2 separate regions of the Homo sapiens genome follow, and region 2 is linked to region 1. Evidence: fine-mapped expression QTL. A gene starts in region 1. The other region holds a variant in brackets. All regions are shown on one strand. Distances are from middle to middle.

Region 1 (12,101 bases):
ATAATCTGCCCTCGTCTCTCTTTCCAACTTTATCTCCTGTGGTTCTTCCCTCACTTGCCCTTCAGGCCACACTGGCCTTCTCCCAGCTGATCCTTGAATGCACCAGGGTCTTTGCACCTGCCGTAGCCTTGCTTGTTCTTCTGTATGTTCCTCTATGAGCTCTTCATTTGCCCCATTCCTTTCTGTTGTTCAGTCTCTGATCAAAAGTCATTTCATAAGAAAGGCTTTGAGTTTTTACCTCATCCTGCTTTACAGTCTTCATAGCACTCTGCTCCCTGAAACAGTTTTGTGTCTTTGTTGGTTAAATGATTTTTTTTCTTATCTCCCCCACAAAGAATATAAACCTAAAGTGGACTGAGCTGTGTCTGTCCTGTTCACCACTGCAACCTCAGGGTGTGGTATGGTTTTGGCATACAGCAGGTGTTCAAAAACTATGTGTTGAGTGAAAGAATGAATGAACATGAGCCCAGAAATAGCTCTAGAGTCCAGAGAGCTGCCGTAGGCGGGCTCAGAGCCTTGCCTGTCCCTGGAGGCATGACGTGGAGGGAAACTGCCACTTAGGAAAGAACCAGCAAGTCAGTGGGAATATGGGGTTTGGAATCAGACAGATGAGGGTTTGAGTCTTTGTTCTGTCACTTCCTGCCTGGCTGCAGGCCTTGGACAGGTTATTTGACCTTGTTGGCCGGGCGTGGTGGCTCACATCTGTAATTCCAGCCCTTTGGGAGGCCGAGGCGGGCAGATTACCTGAGGTTGGGAGTTTGAGACCAGCCTGACCAACATGGTGAAATCCCATCTCTACTAAAAATACAAAAATTGGGCCAAGCACAGTGGCTCACGCCTGTAATCTCAGCACTTTGGGAGGCTGAGGTGGGTGGATCACGAGGTCAGGAGATTGAGACCATCCTGGCTAACACAGTGAAACCCCATCTCTACTAAAAATACAAAAAATTAGCTGGGCGAAGTGGCGGGGGCCTGTAGTCCCAGCTACTCAGGAGGCTGAGGCAGGAGAATGGTGTGAACCTGGGAGGCGGAGCTTGCAGTGAGCCGAGATCATGCCACTGCACTCCAGCCTGGACGACAGAGTGAGACTCTATCTCAAAAAAAAAAAAAAGAAAAGAAAAGAAAAGGAAAAGAAAGAAAAGCCTCAGTCCCTTCATCTGTAAAGACAGGGGTTTGATTAGAAGCCACCCCAGAGTGGTTCTGGATTGATTAAAGGCTGCTTCTGAAGCCCTGGGCAAGTGCCACACCCTTAGCAAGTGCTAAATAGATGTTTGCTGTTTAGTTTCCACACCAGGCCCCCGGGGCCACAGGAGCTGGGGGAGGTGTTTAAGGAAGGACCATGCTACTGCAATCCCTCTCACATACACCACTTGGCTTTTGTTTTTCTTTTTGTGTTTTTGTTAGAGACACACTCTCACTCTATTGCCTAGGCTGGAGTGCAGTGCTGTGATCACGGCTCACCGCAGCCTCGACCTCTTGGGCTCAAGTGATCCTCCTCCTTCAGCCTCTCCAGTAGCTGAGACTACAGGCATGCGCCACCACTCCTGGGTAATTTTTAAATTTTTTTAGAGACAGTGTTTTCCTTATGTTGTCCAGGCCGCTTTTAAAATTCCTGGGCTCAAGTGGTCTGTCTGCCTCGGCAACCCAGAGCATTGGGATTACAGGTGTGTGCACTGTGCCTGGCCTGTTTTTCTTTCCTGTGGCACTAACCGCCCCCACAGAGGGGAAAGTAAGCAGTGGAGCCCTGGGTTGAGGGCGGCTGTTGTAGGGGCAGGGACTGTCCACACTGTTACTTCTCCACTGCCCGCCTCCAACATAACCCCATCGTGGGAGCTGGGTGAGGAAATGCATGAGCACTGATTCTTCGCAGGATTTCGAGTGTTACACATGTGGTAATACTGCTCACATCACTTGAATCTGCAATCCCATGTGAAGTTGGAGTATGTGGCAAGAAGCAACTCTGCGAGGGTGGTGGGTGGAGGAGGGAGGGGCCCAACCCACAGGCCAGGAACCCATGTGAGGTGGCCGCCTTCCTCTGTCTCTTGCTAATACCTGGGTGATGGGCTTTATGCATCTTGACCCAGAAAAGAGCGAGTCACAATCGACCAATATGATGGAGGGGATATCACTGCACACCAGGCAAATACAGGCTCAGCTGCCAATTCCCACATCCCTCTAGCCCCTTTTGATGGCCAGGGAACTTTCTTGCTTCTGTTCACATGAAAACAACAGTTGGCCCTACCCATGTAACGAAGCAAACACTTACATACTGTGTACTTACTACATGCTGGGCACTGTTCTTAAACACTACCAGCACTGCCTGTATAATTCTCCCAGCAACCCTATGAGGTGGCTACAATCATTAGCCCCAGTTTACAGATGAGCCAATGGTTGCTTGGTGAGGTTTAGCCAATTGCACAGGCTTGCACAGCCAGTAAGTGGCCAGGCCAGGGTTTGGACCCAAGCCATGCAGCCCCAGAGTCTGTGCACTTCACCACAATGCGACGTGGCCTAGTCCCAAGGGGAATGGCTTGCCTTGTAGGCAATGAGCTGCCCATCATCGTGGGTGACAAGCAGAAGTGACTGAGCTAGACAGGGGTCTCCTCCACGTATTCAGTGTGTCCCCTGTGTGTAGCTCTGAGCTAAGCACTCTGCCAATGCCATCTCATTTCAGCCCGATGACACCACTGCCAGATGGAACCATTATTCCACTATATGGATGAACAAACTGGGTTTACAGAGATTAGGTAACTGGTCCGAGATCTCTGGCTGCTGAGGGCTGGAGCTGGGACTCAAACAAGTTTGCTTAATGCAGATCCCAAGCTCTTCACCTCTTATCAGGGATGGTGTCCAATGAGGGTTGGCTGGACTAGATGACTTTTACGGTCCTAGCCAATCCAAGATCCTGAGGGACTGAGAGTCTGGCAAGTAAAGGGGCACACTCCCCTAGTTACTAGCTCTAGCTCTCCCCTAGTAACTAGTTACTATGCCAAAAATACTAGTCATCACATTTCAGTTCTTTTTTTTTTTTTTGAGATTGAATCTCGCTCTGTTGCCCAGGCTGGAGTGCAGCGGCAGGATCTTGACTCACTGCAACTTCTGTCTCCCGGGTTCAAGCGATTCTCCTGCCTCAGCCTCCTGAGTAGCTGGAATTACAGGTGCACACCACCATGCCCGGCTAATTTTTTATTTTAGTAGAGATGGGTTTCACCATGTTGGCCAGGCTGGTCTTGAACTCCTGACCTCAAGATCTGCCCGCCTCAGCCTCCAGTTTGTTTGTTTTTCTTTTTTTTTTTTTTTTTTGAGATGGAGTTTTGTTCTTGATGCCCAGGCTGGACTGCAATGGTGCCATCTCTGCTCACTGCAATCTCCGCCTCCCAGGTTCAAGCGATTCTCCTGCCTCAGCCTCCTGAGTAGCTGGAATTACAGGCATGCACCACCATGCCCAGCTAATTTTTGTACTTTTAGTAGAGACGGGGTTTCTCCATGTTGGTCAGGCTGGTCTCGAGCTCCCAACCTCAGGTGATCTGCCCGCCTCGGCCTCCCAAAGTGAAGTGCTGGGATTACAGGTGTGAGCCAGTGAGCCGGGCCTATTTGAGTTTTTATGTTTAAGGATGTATTTCTCTTACTATTTTTTTTAACACAGGGTTTTTCCTGAAAAGTTGCCTGAGGAACAAAGAGTTAAATAAGACCCTTAAAGGATCAACTCTCTTTGCCAGGCATCTAAGTCCCCTCTGGGGCTTTGAGGAGACAGTCGCTGTCTTTCCTGGTGGTACCACCACCTTCCTTCATTCAACGCCGCCGCATCTGACAACCCTGGGCACAGGAATCTGCACCCCAGGTCTCCACGGTGAATCCAGCAGTCAATTTTCAGAGCTTGTCCTGCCTGCCCCATCCACACCGCTTGGCACATGGGTCAGCCCGCCTTTACTTACCTTCTTCATCTGGCTTCCCGGATGTCACATCTCTTGGTTTTTGGTTGGTTTTTCCAGTTGGCTTTTCCAATTTATACCTGCAGCATGGATCTCTCCTCTGAACTCCAGATACATAAATCTGTCTATTTGACATTGCCTTGGATGTCTAGAAGGCATTTCAAACTTAGCAGGTCCCACACTTAGCTCCTAATTGTCAGTCCTGCCTCCAGCACACGCCCCTCTCGGTGTTCCCCATCGCAGTCGAGGACAACTGCATTCTTCTAGTTTCTCAGGCCTCAAACCTTAGAATCATCCGAGACTCCTGTCTCTCACATATCTCATCTGTCAACGAATCCCATCAGCTCTACCTTCAAAATATGTCCAGAATCCACCACCTCCACTGCTAACACCTGGCTCACTATCTCCTAGTAACCTGGAGGGCACTGTCTTCAGTCTGATCTTCACACAGTAGCCGCAGTATGAAGACACAGGGTAGACCATGCCTCTCTTCTTCTCCAAACTCTCCAGTGGGTTCCTCCTAGTCAAAGTCAAACCTCACTTGGCCCTCTAGACCTCACCTCTGCATCCTCCCGCTGGCCTTATCTCCTCCACCTCTGACCCTTGCTAGCTCTATTTCAGCTCCACCGGTCTCCTGGCCATTCCCTGAACCTGAAACATGGTCTCCTACCCCAGGGCCTGTGCACTGGCTCTCCCGGTGAGGAAACCGCTCTCCTTCCCATCTCCACCGGCGCGTTGCATCCTTCACCTCTTTGCTCACATATCCCTTTCTCAGAGAAGCTTTTACTGAGGCCTCTGCTCACCCTCTTCTCCCCTCCACATTCCGTGTCTTCCTTTTCTATTTCGTTTCTCTCTATGGTACTTATGGCTTATGTAACAAACTAATCTATTGTTTATATATTTATTTTTACTGTTTCTCTGTGAAAACGTACACTCGAAAAGGGCAGGAGTTTTGTCTGTTTGGATCAGGCTCCACCCCTGGAAGGTAGGACAGTGTTCAGCACAGCAGGTGCTCAATAGGTGTTGTTTCGTGAATCAGCACATCAATTGCAGCATTGTGGCTACCAGGGGGTCAGGATGCGGGCGGTGGAGCCCTCTGGCCTTTGTGTGGTAGCCGAGGACTCTGTGTCAGCGACCGTTTTCCGGGAAACTTCCGGGCGAGACTCACATCTTGGAAATTCAAATACTCAATAGCTCTCGAATTCTAGGAATCTTGAGAAGAGGCCTGGATTAAGGATTCAGACGTGGGCCCTCAGATGGGTGAGAAACGGGGACTCTGTGTCTCCTAGCGGGGACAGAAGGGCCAGGTGACAGGCCAGGCAGAGTGGACGGGGCTTGGGCAGGGGGCGGGGGCAGGCAGCCACACGGGGCAGGAGCTGCAGAGCTAAAGCCAGGCCATGTGGACTGGCTGCGGGTTTCGCTGCCTAGCTGGTGGCATTGAGCAAGTTACTTAACCTTTCTGAACTTCCGTTTTATGATTTTGGAGGAAACAGTCATAGCTTTCTCTCTGGCAGAGTCCGATGGCCCGAGTCCCGCTCCACAGTGCGGGTGGAGGGCACGGAGGGGTGTGTGTGGGGGGCGACAGCCCAGGAAGACTAGGGGGCGGCAGGGCGCGTGGGGGCGGGGGTTGGGAGACCGCAGGGAGGATCCCCGACCTTGTCTGAAGATCCAAGCAGGCGGAGCCGCGGTCTGGTCCGCGGGGTAGGCGGGGCGCAAGAGTGTTCCCGGGGGCGGGGGGCCGACCCGCGTCTAAAGGTTTCCGCGATTCACCCGCCGGCGCCTGGCCTGGCCCAGTTGCACCACGAGCGCTGCGGACACTCGGGGCGGCAGTCGGTCTGTCAGTCCTCCCGCCAGGTCCCGCGGCCCGCACCTGCCGCCCGCACCTGCAGCTCCGCACCTGCGGCCAGTGCCTACTGCCCTCTCTTGCCGCCCGCACCTGCAGCCCCGCACCTGCCGCTTGCACCTGCAGCCCCGCGCTCTACCCGGTTCAAGCATGGCTGACCAGGCGCCCTTCGACACGGACGTCAACACCCTGACCCGCTTCGTCATGGAGGAGGGCAGGAAGGCCCGCGGCACGGGCGAGTTGACCCAGCTGCTCAACTCGCTCTGCACAGCAGTCAAAGCCATCTCTTCGGCGGTGCGCAAGGCGGGCATCGCGCACCTGTGAGTCGGGCCTTGGGCGGTGGGCCCCGTCCTGTCTGTCTGCCTGGGGAGCCTGCCCGGCGGGCTGACGTTGGGCCCTCTGAGCCTCCTGCCGTCAGCCTCTGTCTGTCCGTCTGATGTCTGAGCGCCTCTCTCGCTCTCTGTCTGGTAGCCCCTCTCTCCAGAAGCTGGCTCAGCCTCACTCAAGTCCTCATCTCCTCCCTTGACCTTGGAGGGGCCCACCTGGGGGTCCGTCTCACAGGTGTACACCTGATTCCATCTTGCATTCCTCTTCTCTGCCCTGAGCAGCCTGCCTCGTACCCCTCTCAGCCGGCCAAGTGTGGGCACCTGGCCTGCCCGTCATACCCGCCCTAGCCTCAGACAGGAAAGTGCTAGCTCAGGTGCCTTCCTTCCCCATTTCTTCTTTGTCCTCCTTCACTCTTTCTGCAATTAGGGACCCAAGTCAGGTTTCTAATCCAGTTATCTCTGACCTGAAACAAGACCTGTTAGGAGCGAGTGTCCCCCCCGCCCCCCCCGCAAGCAGGCTGGGAGGTCTCCTGTGTGTCCAGAGCCTTTAGGAGCAGCAGGGCTTGTGTGCAAAGGAGCTCCCGTGGGCTGCCCCTTGCTGGGACAGTTGCCATGCTGTGCCAGAAACAGGAAACACCCAGGGCTTCAAAACCCCTATCGATTTGCAATGATGGTGTGTGCAGCCTCTGCCCAATTAGTGGAAAGCTCAAAAGTGGTTTGTAGAATGGTTCTGAATGCGCTATGGAGTGCATCTCGAACGTCACTGGGCACAGGAATCATTTGGGGATCTTGGTAAGATGTGTGCCCTCCTTCCATAGCTCTGGGACAGGTCCTGAGATTCTGCATTTCTAAGAAGTTCTCCTGTGGTGGGTGCTGCCCATCAGATACTGTTTGTCTACTCATCACATTGTGAGTAGCAAGGGGTCAAGTGGAGTGGAGACTCAAAGGACCCCTTCTTGTGAGGTTTTTTGTAAGTCACACAACATCCTTTCGTTTGTGTTGGTGTGCACAGGTATTTTCTTTTTCTTTTCTTTTTTTTTTTTTTTTTGAGATGGAATTTTGCTCTTGTTGCCCAGGCTGGAGTGCAATGGTGCGATCTTGGCTCACCGCAACCTCTGCCTCCCAGGTTCAAGCGATTCTCCTGCCTCAGTCTCCCGAGTAGCTGGGATTACAGGCATGTGCCACCATGCCCAGCTAATTTTGTAATTTTTTTTAGTAGAAACGGGGTTTCTCCATGTTGGTCAGGCTGGTCTCGAACTCCCGACCTCCGGTGATGCCTTGGCCTCCCAAAGTGCTGGGATTACAGGCATGAGCCGCCGTGCGCAGGTATTTTCTAGCTAACTGATCCACACTTTTAACTGAAGTGTAACTGGGTTTTCAGATTGTCCATACACTTTACTAACATTCCCCGCACTTATGCACACTATAAAAATGACACATGATGGGCTGGGCGCGTAGGCTCTAGCCTGTCATCCCAGCACTTTGGGAGGCCGAAACAGGTGGATTGCCTGAGGTCAGGAGTTCAAGACCAACCTGATCAACATGGTGAAACCCCGTCTCTACCAAAAATTAGCTGGGTGTGGTGGCAGGCGCCTGTAATCCCAGCTACTCGGGAGGCTGAGGAAGGAGAATTGCTTGAACCCAGGAGGCAGAGGTTGCAGTGAGCCGAGATCGCATCATTGCACTCCAGCCTGCGCGACAAGAGCGTGACTTTGTCTTAAAAAAAAAAAAAAAAGACGCATGATGCTCAGAGCTGACCTGAACAAATACAACCCTGCTACTTGGGTTTGGAATGCATTTCTCCATTCTTAAAAACTCTTCTCCGCCCCGCATCCTGCAATCTAGATTCCTTTTCTTACTGGCAGGCTGTCTGGCTTTGGTCCCACAGTATGGACTGGTGGAGGTAATTCATGTAAAGGAGTGGTATGATCACATTTATTTTTGAATATTAAGCAGACATGTTAAGGAAGGTGATGACTCCATTACTGTTGCCTCTGGCCCCTCTTAATAATACATTCCTAAGGATTCTTATTTTAGAAACATACCCAGGTGAAATCTTAAGCTTTAATTTACAGCTAGTATAGGTGGCTCACAGCTTTAACTGCCTTTGAGGACCAGGGATATATTTTAAAAAGAGGGCTTGTCGACTGGGTGTGGTGGCTCACACCTGTAATCCCAGCACTTTGGGAGGCTGAGACGGGTAGATCACTCAAAGTCCAGGTGTTTGAGACCAGCCTGGCCAACATGGTGAAACCCTGTCTCTACTAAAAACACAAAAATTAGCCAGGCATGGTGGCAGGCGCCTGTAATCCCAGCTACTTGGGAGGCTGAGGCAGGAGAATTGCTTGAACCCGGGAGGCGGAGGTTGCAGTGAGCCCAGATCGTGCCACTCTACTCCAGCCTGGCGACCGAGTAAGACTCTGTCTCAAAAAAAGAAAAAAAAGGGCTTGTCATGTCTGATATTGTTTAAAAAATGTGTCAGTACCTTTCACACCCCTAGAGAGACTGAGAAATGTAAGATGTGTTTTGAGGTGTCCCACTGTCTAAGTAACCTTAGACAGTGGGACCTTGGATAGTGAGATTTTGATGGTGGGGCCTGGATGAAGCATGTTAATTTTGGCTACGTAAGGTATGCGTTTTATTTATTTATTTATTTTGAGATAGAGTCGCACTCTGTTGCCCAGGCTGGAGTGCAGTGGTGTGATAATGGCTCACTGCAGCCTCAACCTCCCAGGCTGAATTGGTGCTCCCACCTCAGCCTCCCCTGTAGCTGGGACTACAGGCATGTGCCACCATGCCGGATAATTTTTGTGTTTTTGTAGAGATGGGGTTTTGTTATGTTGCCCAGGCTGGTCTCAAATTCCTGGGCTCAAGCGATCTGCCCACCTTGGCCTCCCAAAATGCTGGGATTACAGGTATGAGCCACTGTGCCTGGCCAATATGTGTACTTTTATACTAGATAGTTGTGAATACCAGGTTTTAAAGAAATACTATGTTGCACTCATTGACAAAAATTTAAACCATTCAAAAGAATTCAAGGGAAGAGTGAAACCCACCCCATATATATCCCATGGGGTATCCACTGCAAATAATTTACTGCTTATTTTTCCGGATACTCTTTTACAGTCATATAAGTTTACACATGAACACATATTTACATATGCCTATAATAGCAGACAAAATGGGATCACAATACACATTTCTGTAGTTTGCTTTGTTATTTAACATTATTCAAGAAACATCCATTAATATCGGGACATCTACATCTACCTCCTTTTAACTGCTGTGTGCTGCTCCCCTGCACACATCATGAGGTATTGAAGTTTTTCTCTATTTTGGGGCACTTTGGTTTTTACTAGCCTTTGGGTATTACAGTGCTGTACCCTTGGAACTGGTGTGCATGCCTGGTTGTTGGGGTAGCTGACAGGACTAGATGCTGGACACTGAGGTGATCTTGTGGGAAGTTCAGCGTTTGGCCATTTTCAGTATCACATGTCATCAGGCAGGTAGCATGATTCTCAAGCCAGGCCCCCAACCTACATTCATTCCAGGCATTGAAATCCAGAAAGAAAAACCAGCATTCCTGCAAAGATCTTGTTAGTGCTGAAGACCGGACCTAGAAGAGCATGTACCCAGAGGGACGGGGTGATTGCAGATTTGCAGGAACCTCACTGGAGCCAGTTTAGGGAGCTCACCCAGGATCATTATGGAAACATCAGGAGTTTAAGCACAGAGCCTGGTGTAACCTAAAGTTGCTATTGTAGTCACTTTCATTGCTCCTGTTAAAATGTTCATGGAATCATTGAGTTTTAGACTGAAAGAGACTCAACAGTCAGCTAGTCTATCACCTCCTCATACAGAAGAGGACCCTGAGACCGAGGAAGATGAGATGACTTGGCCTGTGGCCGGGATCTCAGGAACCCCGGATTGGAGGTCTTTTGGCCACACTACACATCTCTTCCTTTATTTTTTAGAAATCAATTAGAATTCACCAAACTCTAAATCTCATCTATTAGTTAACTGGTTTTTTTTTTTTTTTTTTTTTTTTGAGACAGGGCCTCACTCTCACTCAGGCTGGTGTGCAGTGGTGCAATCTCAGCTTACTGCAACCTCTGCCTCCCGGGTTCAAGTGATTCTCCTGCCTCAATTTCCCGAGTAGCTGAGATTACAGGCGTACACTACCATACCTGGCTAATTTTTGTATTTTTAGTAGAGATGGGATTTTGCCAAGTTGACCAGGGTCGAACTGGCCTCAAGTGATCCACCTGCCTCGGCCTCCCAAAGTGCTGGGATTAGAAGTGTGAGCCACTGCGCCCGGCCTAATTTTTGTATTTTTAGTAGAGACAGGGTTTAGCCATGTTGGCCAGGCGACATTTTTGATGTGAATTCAGGCTTAGATACCAAGGAGTCATTGCTTTGGGCAAATGTGCCCTGGGAGACTTCCCTCTGGGCTTCTGGCTCCCTCCATCCACTCTTGGGAGAGAAACTGTGCAGATCAGAACAGTCTGCAACTTGAAGTCAAGCTGATGAAGTTGTGGTTCAAATGTCAAATTCGAGTGTTGTCCACTTTGCATTCCTTTGGGAGAAAGTGGTGCTCCAGTGGCTTCAGGTTTTTTGTTTTGTGGAGTTGACTTCCCTTTGTATCCATTTCCAAATCACTGACTGAAGAATTCACTGATTTCATTCAATTAACAAAATATTACTGAACATCCACCATGTACAAAGTTCCAGAAGACGAGAACAACACAGAGTTTACTCTGTAGGAAAAAATATTTGTATCGTTCTAACACGCAATAGAGGTTTTGAAAGATGCTTTCTTTTTCTTTCTTTTTTTTTTTTTTGAGGCAGAGTCTCGCTCTGTTGCCCTTGCTGGAGTGCAGTGGGGCGATCTCAGCTCACTGCAACCTCCGCCTCCCGGGTTCATGCCATTCTCCTGCCTCAGCCTCCCATAGCTGGGATTACAGGCGCCCACCACCAAGCCCAGCTAATTTTTTTGTATTTTCAGTAGAGACGGGGTTTCTCCATGTTGGTCAGGCTGGTCTCAAACTCCTGACCTCAGGTGATCTGCCCGCCCCGGCCTCCCAAAGTCCTGGGATTACAGGCGTGAGCCACTGCGCCCGGTCTGAAAGATGCTTTCGCGGTGGCTCACGCCTGTAATCCTAGCGCTTTGGGAGGCCGAGTCGGGCGGATCACGAGGTCAGGAGATCGAGACCATCCTGGCCAACACGGTGAAACCCCGTCTCTACCAAAAAATACAAAAAAATTAGCCGGGCGTGGTGGCGGGCGCCTGTAATCCCAGCTACTTGGGAGGCTGAGGCAGGAGAATGTTGTGAATCTGGGAGGCGGAGCTTGCAGTGAGCCGAGATCGCGCCACTGCACTCCAGCCTGGGCGACATAGGGAGACTCCGTCTCAAAAAAAAAAGAAAGATGCTTTCATAGAGGTGCCAAAAATACGATTCATGGTGAAGGACTGTGGAGCGCCAAGAATGGGCACGTGCAGGGGAAGCAAAAGGCCCGGCGGCTGGACCGCAGTTCAGGCTGGAGGTCACAGGGGGAGGAGTCCTGAGGTGGGAAAGTGTTTCTGGAAAAGTTGCCCACTCAATTTGACCAAAGCATGGAGTACTCATGGTAGGGCGTTCGTGGATGTGAAATTGTGGGTACATTGGGGAAGCATCAAATGGCAAGGGTGAACACTTTACACTTTTGGGGGTATAGAAAAGGAGAGATCAAGGATTTTGAAAGTTTTTTGAGTGGGGCAGTTGCGTGACTGGAGACAAATCTGGAGAAGGTGTGGCTGGAAGTATATCGGAAGAGCGAAAGATAGGATATGGGAAAACCAGTGGCAAGGGGGAGCCGTCAGTTGAGTAGCCAGCAGAGCTGCAGCCTTGGAGGGGAGAGGAAGGATTTGGAAGAAGTCTGAGCATGGATTAGATGAGAAGGGCTGTGAGGGAGTTTCTGAAATCGCTGGTCCTAGCAATTGAATGCAGAGCCCATGCCACC
Region 2 (12,101 bases), 52 kb after region 1:
AGATGGAAGCTGCATTTCAAGTTCCTATCATGTGTGCTTTGATAAAGGGGCCTTTGACTTGTTTTGAGAAAGGAACGAAAACATGCTATGAAGAAATACACATATAATTTTTCCAGTTATTATAATGATACCAAGTGCAGTGGCTTGTTGCATTAAAATATGTATTGTGTTATCATGACTTGTACTTGCACAGAGAGAGTCTCACTGGAACAAAGAAGTAGAGGGGTGACGTGAAATATCTCTTTATGCCTCTTGCAGACATGAGTGTTTTATTGTAATAAGCTTTGCAAATATGTTAGGAGCTGGAAATTATGTACGACATAGGAAGCTTGGTAGAGCCCCTTCCTGCATCTGCTCTCTCATCATCTAAAGGAGTGTTTTGCTGGCTACGTGTTTTATTTCTTCTCTGTGACTCTTTCTTTATCTTCACCTCCACTTGGTGTGCAGGAAGCCGGGAGGTGCTAGTCCTGGGAGGGGAGCGCAGAGGTTTCTTCCACAGGGTTCTCTTTGGTGCTTTATCCGAGCATAGATGAGGCCAGGTTCACATTACACTGCTGATGGTCACAGCCCAGTGTCCAGTTTAAGTCTGTAATAAAAAGAATCCGGTGGCCAGGCACGGTGGCTCCTGTCTGTAATCCTGGCACTTTGGGAGGCCAAGGTGGGTGGATCATGAGGTCAAGAGATCAAGACCATCCTGGCCAACATGTTGAAACCCTGTCTCTACTAAAAATACAAAAATTAGTTGGGTGTGGTGGCGGGCGCCTGTAGTCCCGGCTACTCGGGAGGCTGAGGCAGGAGAATCGCTTGAACCTGGGAGATGGAGGTTGCGGTGAGTCGAGATCGTACCACTGCACTCCAGCCTGGGTGACAGGACGAGATTCCATCTCAAAACATACAAACAAACAAACAAAACCCCAGCTTTCTTTGGGCTTCCCTTGTAGTAATTCCAGGGGAGGTCCTCTCAGGAGCTGAAGGAACACATATTTTGGGGATGAAAGAGACTCAAAATGAGGAGCTAACAAAGTCCAATCATTTAAAATATTTACTCTGAGCAATTAAGTGCTTTTAACACAAAAAGTGATAGCATTAGATTACAAGATGTAATTATCATTTGATCACCACAGACTGTATTTATTTAGGGGTGGTGACCCAGTAGCAGGACCCAGGTTAACGGTGCATTATCCTTGCTTTTTTCCTGTGGGTGGATGCTTCAGCTCTGTTTTTACCTCATTTGGCAATAACAGCCACGCTCTGCATTTAATCGCCTTCCAGAATGTGAGGGCAGGCGGTGCCCTGTTCTGCTCCTGTGGGTGACAGCCCTGCTGAGTGACGGTAGACAGGGACTTTGCCTCTCCCTGTGCGGACCCTGCTATCCTCAATGCGGTTGCCTGAGTCCATCTCAGGGTGATTCATCCACATAAATTGGGCTCCCCCTCTGTGCAGGGCTCTTGGCTAGGCAGTGGCTGCCATGGTAGGGGTCTTGCTTATCTGCTGCAAAACTCTGACTTTATGGCGGTTGAGCAAGGAGACAAAGTGGCCCTAGGAACTGGATAATTGAGGTGCTTATTAATTTGGCATTTCCTACCGTGTGATAATGGGCGTGATTTACTCTTGCTAGGACCTTAGATTCCCTTTGTGAAATGGAGAGTATAGTAGCATCCCTAACTCTTAGGGTTGTTGCAGAGTTAGCGAGCGCATGTGATGACGATTTCAACTGTGCCGGCCCCGTAAGACACGCACAGTGCCTGTCACTACCGCGGTTCCAAGCCCAGACCAGATTTGCCTGTGCCTGAGCCGTCAATGACCACTGGCGGCATTTGAGGAGCCTTTCAGCCCCCCACTGCACTGTGGGAGCCACTTTCTGGGCTGGCCAAGGCTGGAGCCCACTCCCTCAGCTTTCAGGGAGGTGTGGAGGGAGAGGTGCGAGCGGGAACTGGGGCTGCGTGCGGCGCTTGCGGGCCAGCTGGAGTTCCGGGTGGGCGTGGGCTTGGCGGGCCCGCACTCCGAGCAGCCAGCCAGCCCTGCTGGCCCCCGGCAATGGGGGACTTAGCACCCGGGCCAGTGGCTGCGGAGGGTGTACTGAGTCCCCCAGCAGTGCTGGCCCACTGGCGCTGCGCTCGATTTCTCGCTGGGCCTTAGGTGCCTTCCCGCGGGGCAGGGCTCGGGACCTGCAGCCCGCCATGCCTGAGCCTCCCATCCACTCCATGGGCTCCTGTGCGGCCCGAGCCTCCCCGACGAGCGCCACCCCCCGCTCCACAGCGCTCAGTCCCATCGACCACCCAAGGGCTGAGGAATGCGCGCGCACGGCGCAGGACTGGCAGGCAGCTCCACCTGCAGCCCCGGTGCGGGATCCACTAGGTGAAGCCAGCTGGGCTCCTGAGTCTGGTGGGGACGTGGAGAGTCTTTATATCTAGCTCAGGGATTGTAAATACACCAATCAGCACCCTGTGTTTAGCTCAAGGTTTGTGAGTGCACCAATCGACACTCTGTATCTAGCTGCTCTGGTGGGGCCTTGGAGAACCTGTGTGTGGAAACTCTGTATCTAACTAATCTGATGGGGACGTGGAGAACCTTTGTATGTAGCTCAGGGATTGTAAACGCACCAATCAGCGCCCTGACAAAACAGGCCACTCGGCTCTACCAATCAGCAGGATGTGGGTGGGCCAGATAAGAGAATAAAAGCAGGCTGCCTAAACCAGCATCGGCAACCCGTTTGGGTCTCTTTCCACACTGTGGAGGCTTTGTTCTTTCGCTCTTGCTGCTGCTCACTCTTTGGGTCCACGCTGCTTTTATGATCTGTAACACTCACCGCGAAGATCTGCAGCTTCACTTCTGAGCCCAGTGAGACCACGAGCCCACTGGGAGGAACGAACAACTCCAGATGCGCCACCTTAAGAGCTGTAACACTCACCGCGAGGGTCCGCGGCTTCATTCTTGAAGTCAGTGAGACCAAGAACCTACCAATTCCGGACACACCACCACCCAGGCAGGGGACCGCAAGCCCCTGGCTCCTTTTGGGGAGATCTTTCTAGCAAGGGCTCCGTGAATGCAATTTAAAAGTTATGAGAGTCTCCTTTTCCCCTTCTCTTTCCTCTTCTTATGGTGGGAACAAGAGAGGCTGGAGTGCCCGCCTGGAGCCTCTCCTTGGCTTTCTCATGGCCGTGGGGGATCATTCCTTTAGAGACTGTTAGTTAGCTTTAGTGTCAGTCAGAACACTGCAAGATACTGTCCTACGGGCTAGAGAGCCCCTTTCCCCCATCATCTCAGGTGAAGCTATTGCCGGGAACTCACATCTCCTGGTGAGTTTCCATTCTTTCTAGGAGGAGGGGTGCTGCCCAGTGCCTGGAGAGAGGGTGCAGGGGGTCGGCTGAGGGGTGGGGTTAGGCGGATGAGGGGGCATTTGCAAAGCGCAGGACAGAGGCTGTTTCTCAGCTCTGCCCACCGCAGGCCTGGGCCTGCTGTTCATCCTCCAGTGGCAAGCGCATTCAGATTCCATATCGAACCAAGGCCTGTGTTTGTGGTCCCCTGAAACTCAGATGCAGTCAGCCTAGTTTTGTTGCTGCTGTTGCTTGCTTGCTTTTGTCTTGACCAGGAGGCACAGTCTTTGGGGTGAGGCTGCTAGGAGTGTTTTCCAAGACAGCTGACTGCTCACGTCATGGTTCCTCAGACACCAAATGATGTGCTGTGGGTGGGGGTTGGTGTTGGGGGGTGAGGTGGGGGTGCTGTTCAGGGAAGAGGGTGGGAAATGAGTTTGCCCCCAGCTTAAGGTAGATCAGTGGTTCTCAACCCTGGCTACCTGTTAGAACCACCTGAGATTTCCTTCAACAAATAAATAGCATTCACATCAGTAGGCAAAGGAAATTCCTTTCTTGCCATCCTTTCCTCATAACTCAGTGAGCAGACATGGAGCATGGGCTGTGTGTCTGGGCACTGCAGAAACAGACAGAAGGATGGATCCTGCCCTCTGCAAGCAGGTCATGCAGCAGGAAGCCAGTCCGTGAGTGTGGTGAACACTGAGGAGGGATGATGGGGTGTTTCTGGTGTGTGGGGCCCACTTGAGAGGACCAGGGAGGCGTCCCAGAGAGGAAAAGGAGGAATAGCAGGAAGAAAGCCGGGCAGAGAGCACTGCTGTGGTGGGAACACCATTAGTGAAGGCGAGAAGGACCAGAGCCGCTTGCTGGGTGCTGGCCCAGGGACATCTGCGGCTGTTGGAACGTGAGAGGGTGGCGGGGTGGCTGAGCCTTGCTGTAGTGGTGCAGGGTGGACACATGAAGGATACGGCTTCCCTCAGAATGGAAAAAAAAATCCTGCCATTGTGGAAGCTCACAGACAATAAACAGGACCTAGATGGTGGTCAGGGCAGAGGAGAAAATGCATCGAGTAAGATGTTGGGGACCAGGGAATGCTGCTCCAAACAGACGGCCAGAGAAGGCACTACTGAGAGATGATCCTTGAGCCAAAGCTTGACTGGGGTGGCCGTCACATGGCTCTTGAGGAAGAGTGTCCCAGGTGGGGCAGCAAGGCCACTGGGCAGTCAGTCACAAGGCAGGTGTGTGCCTTGGAGGTTTCAGAGGCTGGGGCTGACCCTGTGAGGATGAGAGAGACGGGCAGCCATGCCAACCCGGGCGCAGAGATTCCACGGTGGTGCCTGACACCCACTTGCGGGGACTTGGATTTTGCCTCTGGGTAAGACTGGGGGCACTTTAGGAGGACCCCTCCTGCTGGTGTGTTGAGAACCCCCTGAAGGGGCGAGGGTGGAAGTGGGGAGACCTTTGCATATGAATGCTCTAAAACCCAAAGCCTCTAGATAGAATTATTTTGAGGGTCTCCCTCCATCGCTCAGGCTGCAGTGCAGTGGCGTGATCACAGCTCACTGCAACCTCCACCTCCCCAGGCTTAGATGATCCTTTCATCTCAGCCTCCAAAGTAGCTGGGACTACAGGTGTGTGCCACCACATCCAGCTAATTTTTGTATTTTTTTGTAAAGACAGGGTCTCACTGTGTTGCCCAGACTGGTCTTGAACTCCTGGGCTCAAGCGACCTACACGCCT[T/C]GGCCTCCCACAGTGCTGGGATTACAGGCACGAGGCCCTGGCCCTGACTGGCATAGAATTCTCGTAGTAGCACTCTCTTATACTGCTTGGGATGGCAGTGAAGAAAAAAATGAAATAAGTCTGCCCCCACATTTCCTTCTCAGTTCAAGTAACACCAAGCTACCACAGGGCAATTTTAATTCATTCCAGCAGGGCACTGTGTGAGGACAATCCACAAAGACTTGAAATTCCAGGGCTTGGCCGGGCATGGTGGCTCATGCCTGTAATCCCAGCACTTTGGGAGGCTGAGGCGGGTGGATCACCAGGTCAGGAGATCAAGACCATCCTGGCTAACATGGTGAAACCCCGTCTCTACTAAAAATACAGAAAAAAATTAGCCGGGCGTGGTGGCGGGCGCCTGTAGTCCCAGCTACTCCGGAGGCTGAGGCAGGAGAACGGCGTGAGCCCAGGAGGCGGAGCTTGCAGTGAGCAGAGTTCGTGCCACTGCACTCCAGCCTGGGCGACAGAGCAAGACTCCGTTTCAAAAAAAAAAGGAAAAAAGAAAAAACAAATTCCAGGAGCTGGAGGCCACAGTCCTTTACTTTTGGAGTCCTCAGTTATGGCAATGGGTCTGATTTGATGAGTCCCCCCATCTGCTCCATCTCCTCGTGCTGAGACTGGGTTTGTGTTTTAGTGAGACTGAGTCCTGGGTCATCTCATTGGAAGGCTAAGAAAATATGACAACGACTCCAAGGTGTAAGGGAGGCAAGGCTGAGAGGTATCCTGCCAGGCATAATCGCCTTCTTCTGCACGTGTGACTTGGAGACTCCAGAGACACAGAACGAGAGGGGACTGCACTGCTGGCGTTTTAGGGTCCCAGGCTCTTTGCTGGAGTTAAGACCCCCTAGTGACTTCCTCATTCAGCCTTTTGTCTTCTCAGGTATGGAATCGCAGGAAGCGTTAACGTGACGGGAGATGAGGTGAAGAAACTGGATGTGCTATCCAATTCCCTGGTGATCAACATGGTCCAATCCTCCTATAGTACCTGCGTCCTGGTCTCAGAAGAGAATAAGGACGCCATCATCACCGCCAAGGAGAAGCGGGTGCGTCATGGGGCTGCGGTGCCCGCTCGCCAGTAGATGATGATACTGAGCCGGAAATAAGCTGCCTTACTTTTCTTTAATTCCCGGGATTCTCCTCTATTTCTTAACATTTGTTTTCTGGAAACAAAGGATTACATACTTCTCTACTTGGAAATCTTGTGCTGTCTAGAGAAAGAAGACTCCACAGTAGGACAGTGATTCATTCAGGAAATTGTTCAGAGTGATGCAGGAACCGCCTCAGTGGGCGCTTGTTCGTGGCTGTTCACTTAATCAGTAACAAGAGCCAAATTTTTGGGGGCTTAACCTTGTGGAGTCCAGGGAAGAGCTGTACTGTACAGCCTCTCACCGCCCCGCCTTCTCATTCCACCCCCGCCCCCAGCCGGCACTTTGCGAGGGGTTACAGTTTCAGCAGAGATTTCTTAGTGCCTGACAAGCTGTTAGACTGGTCCAGAAACAAAACCACAAGCCTCCTGTGCTCTTACCTCGTAGGATGGTGAAGTCGGTGAAGGAAGGCACGGCTGGGGAGGGTCTGCATTCACTATGGGTTCACACACAGCTTATTATACAGAGAGGTTTGCCAATGGCCAAAAGTTTCAATCAATGTTCAGCTGCAATATAGTCAATAGACAAGAGGCCATTTCTTTGTGATTAGCTGGAGGAATGGAAAAGAATTTAAAGTAAAGCCAAATTTATTTAACCTCTGCTCTATGCCAGGTACTGCAAAAGGCACTTTTGCCCTCGTCTCACATAATTTTAGCTACATCACACTATTACTTCCAACTTTCAGTTTCAGTTGATATGACTCTTGTTTCTCTCTCCAGTCTGATCTACCATTGTCTTCTCCTATTGGCCTAAGCCACATAGCCACATAGGTCTTCATGTCAGTTCCTTTATTTATTTATTTACTTATTTATTTATTTTTTTGAGACGGAGTCTTGCTCTACTGCCCGGCTGGACAGGCTGGAGTGCAATGGCGCAATCTCAGCTCACTGTAACCTCTGCCTCCCGGGTTCAAGCAATTCTCCCGCCTCAGCCTCCTGAGTAGCTGGGATTACAGGCATGCGCCACCATGCCCCGCTAATTTTTGTGTTTTTAGTAGAGACGGGGTTTCGCCATGTTGGCCAGGCTGGTCTTGAACTCTGACCTCAGGTGATCCACCCGCCTCAGGCTCCCAAAGTGCTGGGATTACAGGCGTGAGCCACCATGCCTGGCCCGTGGCAGCTCTTGAATACTCCAAACCTGCTGATCTCTCTGTCGAAAATTCTTCTTTCTAGGATGGGCGCGGTGGCTCACGCCTGCAATCCCGGTGCTTTGGGAGGCTGAGGTGGGAGGATTGCTTGAGCTCAGGAGTTTGAGACCAGCCTAGGCAACATAAAGATACAAAAGATAAAAATTTAGCTCGGCATGGTGGTGTGCACCTGTAGTCCCAGCTACTCGGGAGTCTGAGGTGGGAGAATTGCTTGAGCTCAGGAGTTTGAGACCAGCCTAGGCAACATAAAGATACAAAAGATAAAAATTTAGCTCGGCATGGTGGTGTGCACCTGTAGTCCCAGCTACTTGGGAGTCTGAGGTGGGAGGATTGCTTGAGCCCAGGATCTCTAGGCTGCAGCGAGCTCTGACCACACCACTGCACTCCATCCTGGGCAACAGAGTGAGACTCTGTCAAAACAAAACAAAAACAAGAAAACAAACAATTTTGCTTTCTAGGTCTCTGTGTGTTTCTTCATTCCTTAATTCTAGTCAGGTCTGTCATCAAATGTGACCCCCCCTCATGGCTCTCCAGCCCCCAGCCTATGTGGGTTTTCGTTAGGGCACGTGCCACAGCCTGCTTGTATGTGTCCTGACCTGTGTGCTCTCTGTCTGTTCTCCCACTGGAATGTCAGTGCCATGAAATCCAGCCTTGCTGCCGGGATCGCTGACCCCCCGGAAACAAACCCCAGGGCCTTGAACACTTACTTCCCAGCATATGCTGGAAGCTCAACATGTATCTGCTGAATGCATGCATGCATGAATGAATGGGCTAAATTGGATTTTTTTTTAAAAAATTGGATTATTATAGAGATGTTGGGGAATTTCCAAGTTTACAAATTATCTAACTTTTCTACTCTGGCTGAGCAAGGAAAAAAAACAGAAACAAAGCTCAAATGAAGCTAGGCCAATACTCATTGGAAAGTCAGGGAAAACTAAATCAAGTGGAGGGAGAAATGACCCTCATTTCTCTTGAAGTTGCATTACCCGTGTTTAATTGGCCTGGGGGTTCCGGTCGCCATCACTAAGGGTCTCTCGTGACCTTGCACACAGGGGGCTATAAAAAGGACCTGGGGCTTCCCTTGGTGGCTTGAGCTGCCTGTGACAGCAGAGTGGGTGGGTGTGGGGGACGTTGGTCTCTCAAGACACACCCACTTTATCTTCTGGTCTTCGCATCAGACAGGTGAGATGGATACAAAACCCAGAGGAGTATTTGTGTATAAACTGGCACCCTGCCCTCCGTAAGTCATGGTGTTTTTTGATAAAGATATGCTGTGGTTCTCAATCTCTTTTTGATGTGGTGTACTCTGCCACGCACAGCCCTGACACAGAGCAATTGTGCTAATGGGAAGATGTGCTGATCAGTTGGTGCTTTCCTCTCTGATTTAGGGGAAATACGTGGTCTGCTTTGACCCACTGGATGGATCTTCCAATATTGACTGCCTGGCCTCCATCGGAACCATCTTTGCCATCTATAGAAAGGTGAGTAGACAGGCTGACATTTTACACCTCCTTCCTGTGGTGGTCTCTGGAAGGTTCCTGGGCTGAAAACCGTGTGTTTGGAGTCCTACCCTTTGTCTTCCCACTAACGAGAAAAGCCACTGTAGGCAAACCACCAACTTTTCTCTGCCTGGGGCTCCTCATTAGAAGAACTGGATTGGCGATTCTTTCTCTGCCTACTTTCTGGCATTCCTGGGAGGGTAACACAGAAGGACAGCTGAGATCTTGTTTTGAAAGTCTGGGTGCAACACAAATGTCAGACATGGCATTAGGTTCCAGGTGGCATTCTGAATCTCTGACATCCTCTCCCCCTCTTGCCTCATCTCTCCTGTCCCCAGCCACAGAAAGTTTTCTGCTAACGCTCATTGGATTAGATTGAACTAATCTAACCTGGAAGGTCCACGGTGATCTCCCTATTTGAAATCTGAACCCCTGAGTACACCTGAAAAGTCTTTGTTGCCATGTAATGCTGGGTATTCACAGATCCTGGGGACTGGCATATCTTTTGGGCCATTCTGCCTACCCTGAAATCCTAGCAACAGAGAGCTGGGTGGGTTTGTGACATCCAGCAGGACTAGAAACTTCACAATTCAGAAAACTTGTCCTTCATTCTATATAAAGTGTACAACGGCAATAAAATCCATAGCAACCTCGCCAGCTGCGGTGGCTCACGCCTGTAATCCCAGAACTTTGGGAGGCTGAGGCGGGCGGATCACTTGAGGCCTTGAGGCTAGGTGGTCGAGACCAGTCTGGGAAACATGGTGAAACCCCGTCTCTACTAAAAATACAAAAATTAGCCAGGGTGATGGTGCACGCCTGTAATTCCAGCTACTCAGGAGGCTGAGGCAAGAGAATTGCTTGAACCCAGGAAGTGCAGGTTGCAGTGAGCTGAGATCATGCCACTGCACTCCAGCCTGGGTGACAGAGCAAGACTCTCTCAAACAAACAATCCATAGCAACCAAAGAGAAAAATAAGCAGAGTGCCAGTTACATTGTATTTGAGAGTCTTCTATGTATTAGGAAGTTGATTAAACCGTGCTCTTACAGAGTCTTGAGATAGGGAATCTATGGCAGAAATATGAGTATTTAAGGCCTGTATAGTTTGGGTTATATTGTGAGAATAATCTGGTAGATATCTAATTCTCAGCCTTAATTCATGCACAAGTGTTGCCTTGGGTTGTAGTTAGGATATCTAAAGCCATATGATTTAAAGACATTGTGGGATTAAGACATAGTAGCAGTTTGCTTTTCTGTGTCTTGTGGGGCTGAGGGTATGTTTTGGGCATTATTCAGGAAGTATGTACAGCACTTAGTTTTACTTATACTTCATGGTCCCCACTGTCAATTATATTTGGGGTTCCTGTGGGGCTTGACAACAGGTTGGCAAAATATACATATTTAACAGGCTGGGCATGGTGGCTCATGCCTGTAATCCCAGCATTTTGGGAGGCTGAGGTGGGTGGATCACCTGAGGTCAGGAGTTTGAGACCAGCCTGGCCAACATGGTGAAACTCCATCTCTACTAAAAATACCAAAAATTAGCTGGGCATAGTGGCGGGCGCCTATAATCCCTGCTACTCAGGAGGCTGAGACAGGAGAATTGCTTGAACCCGGGGGCAGAGGTTGCAGTGAGCTGAGATTGCGCCATTGCACTCCAGCCTGGGCAACAAGAGTGAAACTGTGTCTCAAAAAAAAAAAAAAAAAAAAAGGGGGCTGGGAAGGGTGGCTCATGCCTGTAATCCCAGCAATTTGGGAGGCCGAGGCGGGCGAATCACGAGGTCAGGAGATCGAGACCATCCTGGCTAACATGGTGAAACCCTGCCTCTACTAAAAATACAAAAAAATTAGCCGGGCGTGGTGGTGGGTGCCTGTAGTCCCAGCTACTTGGGAGGCTGAGGCAGGAGAATGGCGTGAACCCAGGAGGCAGAGCTTGTAGTGAGCCAAGATCGCGCCACTGCACTCTAGCCTGGGTGACAGAGCGAGACTCCGTCTCAAAAAAAAAAAAAAAAAATTAGCCAAGAGTGGTGGCATGTGACTGTGGTCCCAGCTACTCGGCTGAGACATGAGAATTGCTTGAACCTGGAGGTGGAAGTTATAGTGAGTTGAGATTGCACTGCTGCACTCCAGCCTGGGCAACAGAGCAAGACTCCCTCTCAAAACAAACAAACTATACACACACACACACACACACACACACACACACACACGCACACACACACATATTTAACAGATTATAGGAGGAGCTATGAATATTTATGAAGATGGTCCTGACATATGTGTATTGAATAAATATGCATGTATGACCCATGTTTATTTTGGGGTGGAATGTATTCCATTTAGGTCCTGTATATCAAAAGATCTTTCTAGGACATAAAGGCACACAGTGTGTGCTTTCTGTAAACTGGCCAGACCTAGCCCATGGTTGGTGGTCTTTTATCAGGAGAGCTACTGAAATTTAGTCTTTTGTCTAATTAAAGCTGTAGTCTTGGCTGGTGGAACAAGAGCCTGGGGGTGAGTTAGTCAGCTGATCTTAAGGCCAGCGCTTGTTTGGCTGCTAGAGAAAAAGAAAAACCTATGGCAGTTAGGACATGGTTTCCTCTTCAAAATAGGAGTGAGTGACTAACCCTTGCCTGGCGTGGCCTTAGGTCCCGTTTCTAATTGGGTATTTTATTGTGACAAACAGCCTATTTTGTCAATCTTAGGGTTTTCAGTTGTGCCTAATTCCAAAAAGTGGGGGAAGGTATAGGGAGGCCTGTCTGATCCCGCTTCCTGCCATGGCCTGAACTTGTTTTTCAGTTTATCTGGGGATTTCCTTCGGCCAAGAGGCAGGTCCATTCAGTCTGTTGAGAGGCTTAGGATTTTATTTTAGTTTATATTCTCCCTTTTTTGTCAAGGTATTCCGGGGGCAGTATTGATGGCCAAGCTTTTATTTTGTCCCATGTGGATGCTGGGGTGGTATGGTTACCTTCCCAGGGTCCATGATGTTCCTCGATGGGACCCCTATGGCCCAGGGACTTAGAGTCAAAACAGTGGAAGCCAGTTAAATGTTCCAGGCCAGATGGGAATGGAGGTGGCCAGGCATTCATTAACCTTAAAACCCCTTTTAAGCAATGTAAAAGCCAAAAACCCAAAGCCAAAAGGCAAGCTTCCAAAATTGACTTATCTACAAATCTATACATCGAGCTACTGTGAGCTTGGCTAGTAGCACTTAGCTGCACAA

What was found. PIP is the estimated chance that this variant, and not a neighbour inherited with it, causes the effect. A credible set is the group of variants that fine-mapping cannot tell apart.
Region 2: its variant is the best candidate, but not a certain one, in a credible set for the expression of FBP1 in lung (TOPMed, PIP 0.57).

Annotation. Positions count from the first base shown.
Region 1 is chr9:94,633,135-94,645,235 of GRCh38, reverse strand. It overlaps FBP1 (fructose-bisphosphatase 1), which reads left to right and starts at 5,718. Exons shown (of 7, transcript NM_000507.4): 1 at 5,718-6,095. The coding sequence starts at 5,926. RefSeq lists a silencer at 5,585-5,644.
Region 2 is chr9:94,581,339-94,593,439 of GRCh38, reverse strand. FBP2 (fructose-bisphosphatase 2) reads left to right here. Exons shown (of 7, transcript NM_003837.4): 2 at 5,971-6,133; 3 at 8,771-8,863. Among named protein-coding and RNA genes, the nearest start is that of FBP2, 6.4 kb to the left of the region's middle. RefSeq lists enhancers at 1,607-2,149, 4,928-5,427, 5,428-5,929. The variant T/C (reference allele first, on the strand shown) is at 5,052.